2 linked regions of the Homo sapiens genome follow. The protein of the gene in region 1 purifies or fractionates together with the protein of each later gene. This does not show direct contact. Each region holds a gene or a part of one and is shown on either strand. Other genes may lie near its edges. The genes, in order: ADRB3 and SH3GL3.

Region 1 (4,435 bases):
CACACCTGGCTAATTTTTTTTTTTTTTTTTTGTATTTTTAGTAGAGACAGGGTTTCTCCTTGTTGTTCAGGCTGGTCTTGAACTCCTGACCTCAGGTGATCTGCCCACCTCGACCTCCCAAAGTGCTGGGATTACAGGCGTGAGCCACCGCGCCCACCTGTTGATTCATCCATTTTTAATATGTCTTTATAGCAGAAAGATTTTAAGAGAAGGGGCTATCTAGAAAATCTCTAGGTGGAAAGGTGCATGGAAGGGGCAGTGCAGAGTGGGGAAGATGGAGAAATTGAAATTCTTCAGCATCCCAGACTACATAGTGCCAAATCCAAATGCAAATCCAGAGCTAGCAATGAAAAAGACTCCTGGCCGGGCGCGATGGCTCACGCCTGTAATCCCAGCACTTTGGGAGGCCGAGGCGGGCGGATCACGAGGTCAGGAGATCGAGACCATCCTGGCCAACATGGTGAAACCCCGTCTCTACTAAAAATATAAAAATTAGTTGGGCATGCTGGCGGGTGCCTGCAGTCCCAGCTACTTGGGAGGCTGAGGCAGGAGAAGCGCTTGAACCCGGGAGGTGGAGATTGCAGTGAGCAGACATCACATCATTGCACTCCAGCCTCCAGCCTGGGTGACAGAGCGAGACGCCGTCTCAAAAAAAAAAAAAAAAAGAAAAGAAAAAGAAAAAGACTCCTGAGCCTCCTAGTGGTTCACGCCTGCAATTCCAACTACTCAGGAGGCTGGGACAGGAGGGTGGCTTGAGCCCGGGAGTTCAAAGCCAGCCTGGGAAAAATAGAGAGAGAGAGAGACTTGAAATATGGTAAATTTCCTCAGTACCTGAAAATATTAAAAAAAACAAAAAGCTAGAAGGAAAGAGAAGGTAACTGAAACAGAAGGGAAAGGGGACAGATCTCACCAAGCTGAGGTCTTGGGAGAGGAGATACTGGCTGAGCCCTATTACTTAATTTAAAATACCTTAGGGGAGGCCACCCAAGTGGATGCGGGGCTCCTGTGAATCCTTTGCTTGACTCCAGCGGGTTACCTTTGCCTCTGATACATAAAGGGTGGGGATGGGAGCGCTCTCCTCTCTCCTTCCCCTGCCTTGCTGTGGGAACTTCTGGGAAAGGAGGTGCAGGGCTCCAGGAAGCCAGTGCCCAGGGAGTGCTATGCTGAGTCCAGGAGCCTGGCCACGGCAGGGGTGGACAGATGGTGGCAGAGGAACCACGGTGTCCCTTCCTCCAGATTTAGCTAAAGGAAACGTGGAGCATCCCATTGGCCATCCTCCCCACTCTCCAATTCGGCTCCAGAGGCCCCTCCAGACTATAGGCAGCTGCCCCTTTAAGCGTCGCTACTCCTCCCCCAAGAGCGGTGGCACCGAGGGAGTTGGGGTGGGGGGAGGCTGAGCGCTCTGGCTGGGACAGCTAGAGAAGATGGCCCAGGCTGGGGAAGTCGCTCTCATGCCTTGCTGTCCCCTCCCCTGAGCCAGGTGATTTGGGAGACCCCCTCCTTCCTTCTTTCCCTACCGCCCCACGCGCGACCCGGGGATGGCTCCGTGGCCTCACGAGAACAGCTCTCTTGCCCCATGGCCGGACCTCCCCACCCTGGCGCCCAATACCGCCAACACCAGTGGGCTGCCAGGGGTTCCGTGGGAGGCGGCCCTAGCCGGGGCCCTGCTGGCGCTGGCGGTGCTGGCCACCGTGGGAGGCAACCTGCTGGTCATCGTGGCCATCGCCTGGACTCCGAGACTCCAGACCATGACCAACGTGTTCGTGACTTCGCTGGCCGCAGCCGACCTGGTGATGGGACTCCTGGTGGTGCCGCCGGCGGCCACCTTGGCGCTGACTGGCCACTGGCCGTTGGGCGCCACTGGCTGCGAGCTGTGGACCTCGGTGGACGTGCTGTGTGTGACCGCCAGCATCGAAACCCTGTGCGCCCTGGCCGTGGACCGCTACCTGGCTGTGACCAACCCGCTGCGTTACGGCGCACTGGTCACCAAGCGCTGCGCCCGGACAGCTGTGGTCCTGGTGTGGGTCGTGTCGGCCGCGGTGTCGTTTGCGCCCATCATGAGCCAGTGGTGGCGCGTAGGGGCCGACGCCGAGGCGCAGCGCTGCCACTCCAACCCGCGCTGCTGTGCCTTCGCCTCCAACATGCCCTACGTGCTGCTGTCCTCCTCCGTCTCCTTCTACCTTCCTCTTCTCGTGATGCTCTTCGTCTACGCGCGGGTTTTCGTGGTGGCTACGCGCCAGCTGCGCTTGCTGCGCGGGGAGCTGGGCCGCTTTCCGCCCGAGGAGTCTCCGCCGGCGCCGTCGCGCTCTCTGGCCCCGGCCCCGGTGGGGACGTGCGCTCCGCCCGAAGGGGTGCCCGCCTGCGGCCGGCGGCCCGCGCGCCTCCTGCCTCTCCGGGAACACCGGGCCCTGTGCACCTTGGGTCTCATCATGGGCACCTTCACTCTCTGCTGGTTGCCCTTCTTTCTGGCCAACGTGCTGCGCGCCCTGGGGGGCCCCTCTCTAGTCCCGGGCCCGGCTTTCCTTGCCCTGAACTGGCTAGGTTATGCCAATTCTGCCTTCAACCCGCTCATCTACTGCCGCAGCCCGGACTTTCGCAGCGCCTTCCGCCGTCTTCTGTGCCGCTGCGGCCGTCGCCTGCCTCCGGAGCCCTGCGCCGCCGCCCGCCCGGCCCTCTTCCCCTCGGGCGTTCCTGCGGCCCGGAGCAGCCCAGCGCAGCCCAGGCTTTGCCAACGGCTCGACGGGTAGGTAACCGGGGCAGAGGGACCGGCGGCTCAGGGTCGGGAAGCATGCGATGTGTCCGTGGGTCAACTTTTTGAGTGTGGAGTTTATTAAGAGAAGGTGGGATGGCTTTGCTTGGAGAGAAAAGGGAACGAGGAGTAGCGAACCAAAATGGGACCCAGGGTCCTTTTCTTTCCGGATCCAGTCACTAGGGTAGAAGCAAAGGAGGGCGAGCGGGCCGTCGTTCCTCACCCAAGGACCCAAGGTGCGCCACCGGAAAGCGCTGCGGTGTCCCGAGGACTCTCGCCTCGCCTGGTCGGCTTTAGGGATTTTTTTTTTTTTTAAATAGAGACAGGGTTTCGTCTCTGTCGCCCACGCGGGAATGCAGTGGCGCGATCTCAGCTCACTGCAGTCTTGAACTCCTGGCTCCTGGGCTCAAGCGATCCTCCCACCTCAGCCTCCTGAGTATCTGGGACTACAGGCGAGCCCCACCAATCCCAGCTATTTTTAAAATTTCTTGTAGAGATGGGGTCTTGCTATGTTGCCCAGGCTTGTCTTGAACTTCTGGCCTCAAGTGATCCTTCTGCCTCAGCCTTCCAAAGCATTAGGATTACAGGCCGGAGCCAGGGCGCCGGGTCGGCTCTAGTTTTGGTTTTCCAGCTCAGTTCTTTGCCCCCCTCCCCCGATTTCTTGCCATCACTAGACCTGGCTCGGACTTGAAGGCAGGGCTAGTGCCCCCCCACCCGCCCCCCAAGCCCTCGGCCTCAGTTCTGGGTTTTCTCAAAGGTTTGACAGCTGTGGAGGTGAGAATCCACTTCCGGTATGAAGTACAGTTGTGAGTGAGGAGCCTGTGAGTGCAGATGTGTGCCCTCCCGCTCCCTGGGCTGGGTTGGAGTAGGGATGGGGTGGGGCGTGTGTGGCTGGGTGGTGCCCTGGCGTTTTTGTGTAACTAAATATGCGTTCCAGGGTCTCTGATCTCTGTCATTCCCCTCAGTGCACCTGTTGCTCCTTTCACCCCAGGGTCTATTATCTCCACTTTTTTTCCCAGGGCTTCTTGGGGAGTTTCTTAGGCCTGAAGGACAAGAAGCAACAACTCTGTTGATCAGAACCTGTGGAAAACCTCTGGCCTCTGTTCAGAATGAGTCCCATGGGATTCCCCGGCTGTGACACTCTACCCTCCAGAACCTGACGACTGGGCCATGTGACCCAAGGAGGGATCCTTACCAAGTGGGTTTTCACCATCCTCTTGCTCTCTGTCTGAGAGATGTTTTCTAAACCCCAGCCTTGAACTTCACTCCTCCCTCAGTGGTAGTGTCCAGGTGCCGTGGAGCAGCAGGCTGGCTTTGGTAGGGGCACCCATCACCCGGCTTGCCTGTGCAGTCAGTGAGTGCTTAGGGCAAAGAGAGCTCCCCTGGTTCCATTCCTTCTGCCACCCAAACCCTGATGAGACCTTAGTGTTCTCCAGGCTCTGTGGCCCAGGCTGAGAGCAGCAGGGTAGAAAAGACCAAGATTTGGGGTTTTATCTCTGGTTCCCTTATTACTGCTCTCAAGCAGTGGCCTCTCTCACTTTAGCCATGGAATGGCTCCGATCTACCTCACAGCAGTGTCAGAAGGACTTCGCCAGGGTTTTGGGAGCTCCAGGGTTCATAAGAAGGTGAACCATTAGAACAGATCCCTTCTTTTCCTTTTGCAATCAGATAAATAAATATCACTGA
Region 2 (3,808 bases), on another chromosome or scaffold:
TGAGAAACAAAAAATACTGATGCCGGGTTCACCCTGGGCAGTGGGCTGTTTAGTGTGCCACCAAGTTGAGAACCACTGCCATAGGAAGGCAACAGGAAGCCACCTTGGTACAACCTGGGGAGCTCCGCTGATGAAGGCTCCTTAGAGTGCCCTGTTCCTTAGAGATATAGGCGCTACTCCATGAATTTCAAGCTGTCTAAACAACTATAATATAATCCTTCTCACAACAGGAATCTCCATTGCCCCAACTCTTGTCTTCCTCCTCCCATAATGCTGTCACCTCTCTACCCCTCCCCAGGACAAAGGGGCATCTCATTTGGCCAGCCACAGAAATACCCCAACGTACCTATTCTCTTTACTTGGACCTAGAAGACTTAGTGGAGAAAGAACATAATCTCTAGCAGAACTTGTTCAATTCTCACTTGAAGTCTAGAGGGAGGAAAAAGTCTTATAACAGAAAAAGGAAATAAAAATGGAAATCATCAAATAGGATGGCAAAAGTCACTTATTAAGAAAAAAAAAAACTCCTAAGATTAATCTTATTAATACTCAAAGAAAAAAAGTATGAACTAGTCAAAATTGAAGTGAGATTTTTGTGAGAGAAATGTGTCATATTAATACTGAAATATACCTAGTTAAATGAATTCATGAGAATAGCAAGGAAATATTGAAATAGAAGGGTAATGACTATGAACTAGTTTTACTAGTTATTAACATTTTATTTATTTATTTATTTTTGAGATGGAGTCTCACTCTGTCACCCAGGCTGGAGTGTAGTGGTGTGATCTCAGCTCACTGCAACCTCCGCCTCCCAGGTTCAAGTGATCCTCCTGCCTCAGCCTCTTGAGTAGCTGGGATTACAGACATGCGCTACCATGCCTGGCTAACTTTTGTATTTTTAGAGATGGGGTTTCACCATGTTGGCCAGGGTGGTCTCAAACTCCTGGCCTCAAGTGAACTGCCCGCCTTGGCCTCCCAGAGTGCTGGGATTACAGGTGTGAGCCACCACACCCGGCCTGTTAACATTTATTATAAAGCCACAGTATTTAAAATGATATGGTACTGTTACCAAAATGAGTCAGTGGGACAAAATAGAAAAAATCCAAAAATAGATCTAAGTCCCATGATGATTAAATATATGATAAAGATAAAGGCAATACTTGAAATCACTGGAGAAAATATGGATTATTTAAGTATGTTGTTATGACTGCATAAGCATTATTAAATATAATAGATATTTACCTCATTTTGCCAAAATCCAAATAGATTATAAAAGTTCTGATGTGAAAAAAATTAAATAAAAATACTAGAATAAAATTTAGTTGAGTCTTTATATAGGACTGTGGAGAATAAACCATGAATAGAAAGTTTGATTAGTTTGACTGCTTATACTCTTCAATTTGTGCATTCATGCCAAAACAAAATAGAAACCCCTTTCCCTGCCCCACTGCCAGCACAAACTTCAAAAACAAAATGAGAAAAAAAAAGAACAGATGATAAGTTGGGAATAATGTTTGTACCAGAAATGACAGATAAAGGGTAAATATGTGTAGTATAAAGGGACTTCTAAACATCTTAAGAAAAATAGTGATATTAGGTTGGTGCAAAAGTAATTGCAGGTTTTGCCACTAAAAGTAATGGTAAAAATTGTGATTGCTTTTTTTTTTTTTTTTTTTGAGATGGAGTCTTGCTCTGTCCCCCAGGCTGGAGTGCGGTGGCGCGATCTTGGCTCACTGCAACCTCCGCCTTCCGGGTTCACGCCATTCTCCTGCCTCAGCCTCTCCAAGTAGCTGGGACTACAGGTGCCCGCCACCACGCCCGGCTAATTTTTTTGTATTTTTAGTAGAGACAGGGTTTCACTGTGTTCTCGATCTCCTGAACTCGTGATCCGCCCGCCTCAGCCTCCCAAAGTGCTGGGATTACAAGCGTGAGCCACTGCGCCTGGCCACTGTGATTGCTTTTGCACCAACCTAATAGAAAAATAAATTGACACTAAATGTCAGATATTTTAGAAAGAATTCATGTTCTATGACCATGAAATCCTTTTCTTGGAATTTATCCTCAGAAATTAATAGTGCACATTTGTAGATATTTATGTATAAGCTCTTTTTCCCAAAGAATTGTCTATAAAAGCCAAGGGGGAATAAAAGAGACAACAGAAAGAAATGAAGAAAAAGGAAGAGAAATCGAGAAAAACAGGGAGGGAGAAGGAAGAAAAGAATGAAGGAAGGAAGGAAAAGAAGAGATGAAAAGAAGAGAAGGAAGGAAAAGAAAGAAGAACCGTAAATGTCCAACAATAGGAGATTAGTTGAAGAAATGTTACATTGTGAGAGCTGACAGCTAGTCAGTAACTAAAATTGAAAGATATTCACCCTAGCTTGTACAAGAAGAATCTTTTATGAAAACAACTATATGTAAATATATGCACAAATATAATCATGAAGACATCTGGAATCTGAAAGCTAGCCCAGTTATCTCTGGGGTAATGGTTTACAGCTCTGACTTTTCTTTCTCCACTTTGCATACATGTATTTTTTGTTTACAATTAGCATGATTTTGTTTTGAAAAAAATGTTTTTGATGTTATTCTGGGACTAGATGTCAGTAAATATTCTTGTCTGTAAATTCTGGTCTGTAAATATTCTTGCCTTTCTTGTCCTGGTTTCTCTCCTCCCGGCCCTTGTCCTGCCCATTAACTAGGAAGATCTTGCTGACCACCAAGGTCCTCCCTACTACCCTCTCCCCAGAGCTCCTGAACCATGAGTGATACACACTTCATATTTGTTCTTTAAAAGATTTTTGGCCATGCACAGTGGATCACGCCTGTAATCCCCACACTTTGGGAGGTTGAGGTGAGCAGATCACTTAAGGCCAGGAGTTCGAGACCAGACTGGCCAATATGGTGAAACCCCACCTGTACTAAAAATACAAAATTAGCTGGGCGTGGTGGCGCATGCCTGTAGTCCCAGCTGCTTGGGAGGCTGAGGCACGAAAATTTCTTGAACCTGGGAGGCAGAGGTTACAGTAAGCCAGGATCGCACCATTGCACTCCAGCCTGGGCAACAGAGCAAGACTCTGTCTCAAAAATAGATAAATAAATAAATAAAAGTTTCTCGTGTATTTTCTAATCCCCACAAAGAAACTGTAAGCTCCCAGAGAGAAGGAGGTGGGCCTGTGATTCCTCTGTCGCTCCCTTAGGGCTCCAGGTGGAGCTGACTGGCTGCTTTTGGGAGATGGGCTGGGCACGACTTCTCTGCCTGGGAGTATTGAAAAGATAGACTCTGGGCTCATGGGGTTGGCGCAGGCAGCTGGGAGAGCTGAGGCAGCCAGAGACCACAAACGGCACCGTGAGCTGGGTGGAGCTGGCCTTGTGGGAAGGAAGCAAGGCCTGCTGTTAAGGGTCTCTCTGAGCTTTTCCACATTTCCAATTTCCCATGGATAATCCATCATGTTCATCTGTACTTTTTGTCTCCATATCATGTGGACAGGTTCTAACATTCCCATGGACCAGCCCTGCTGTCGTGGTCTCTATGACTTTGAGCCAGAAAACCAAGGAGAATTAGGATTTAAAGAAGGGGACATCATTACATTAACCAATCAAATAGATGAAAACTGGTATGAAGGAATGATACACGGAGAATCGGGATTCTTCCCCATTAATTACGTGGAAGTGATCGTGCCTTTACCTCAGTAAATGTGTAACACAAACTCTGGACATACTTTCGTAACTGAAATGAATTCACACCAGTGTGCTCTCAGTGCGGTGTTCTGTGACATCCTTTGCTCTCTGACCAACTTAATGACTTTTG

What was found.
Region 2: the proteins of ADRB3 (region 1) and SH3GL3 purify together in Homo sapiens (pull-down; one study listed by IntAct). This does not show direct contact.

The regions. Positions count from the first base shown.
Region 1 is NC_000008.11:37,963,573-37,968,007, reverse strand, and holds the start of ADRB3 (beta-3 adrenergic receptor), read left to right. Parts: upstream 1-1,408; 5' UTR 1,409-1,538; coding exon 1,539-2,743; intron 2,744-3,768; coding exon 3,769-3,790; 3' UTR 3,791-4,435. UniProt on the Homo sapiens protein: Beta-adrenergic receptors mediate the catecholamine-induced activation of adenylate cyclase through the action of G proteins. Beta-3 is involved in the regulation of lipolysis and thermogenesis.
Region 2 is NC_000015.10:83,614,595-83,618,402, forward strand, and holds part of SH3GL3 (endophilin-A3), read left to right. Parts: intron 1-3,487; coding exon 3,488-3,693; 3' UTR 3,694-3,808. UniProt on the Homo sapiens protein: Implicated in endocytosis. May recruit other proteins to membranes with high curvature.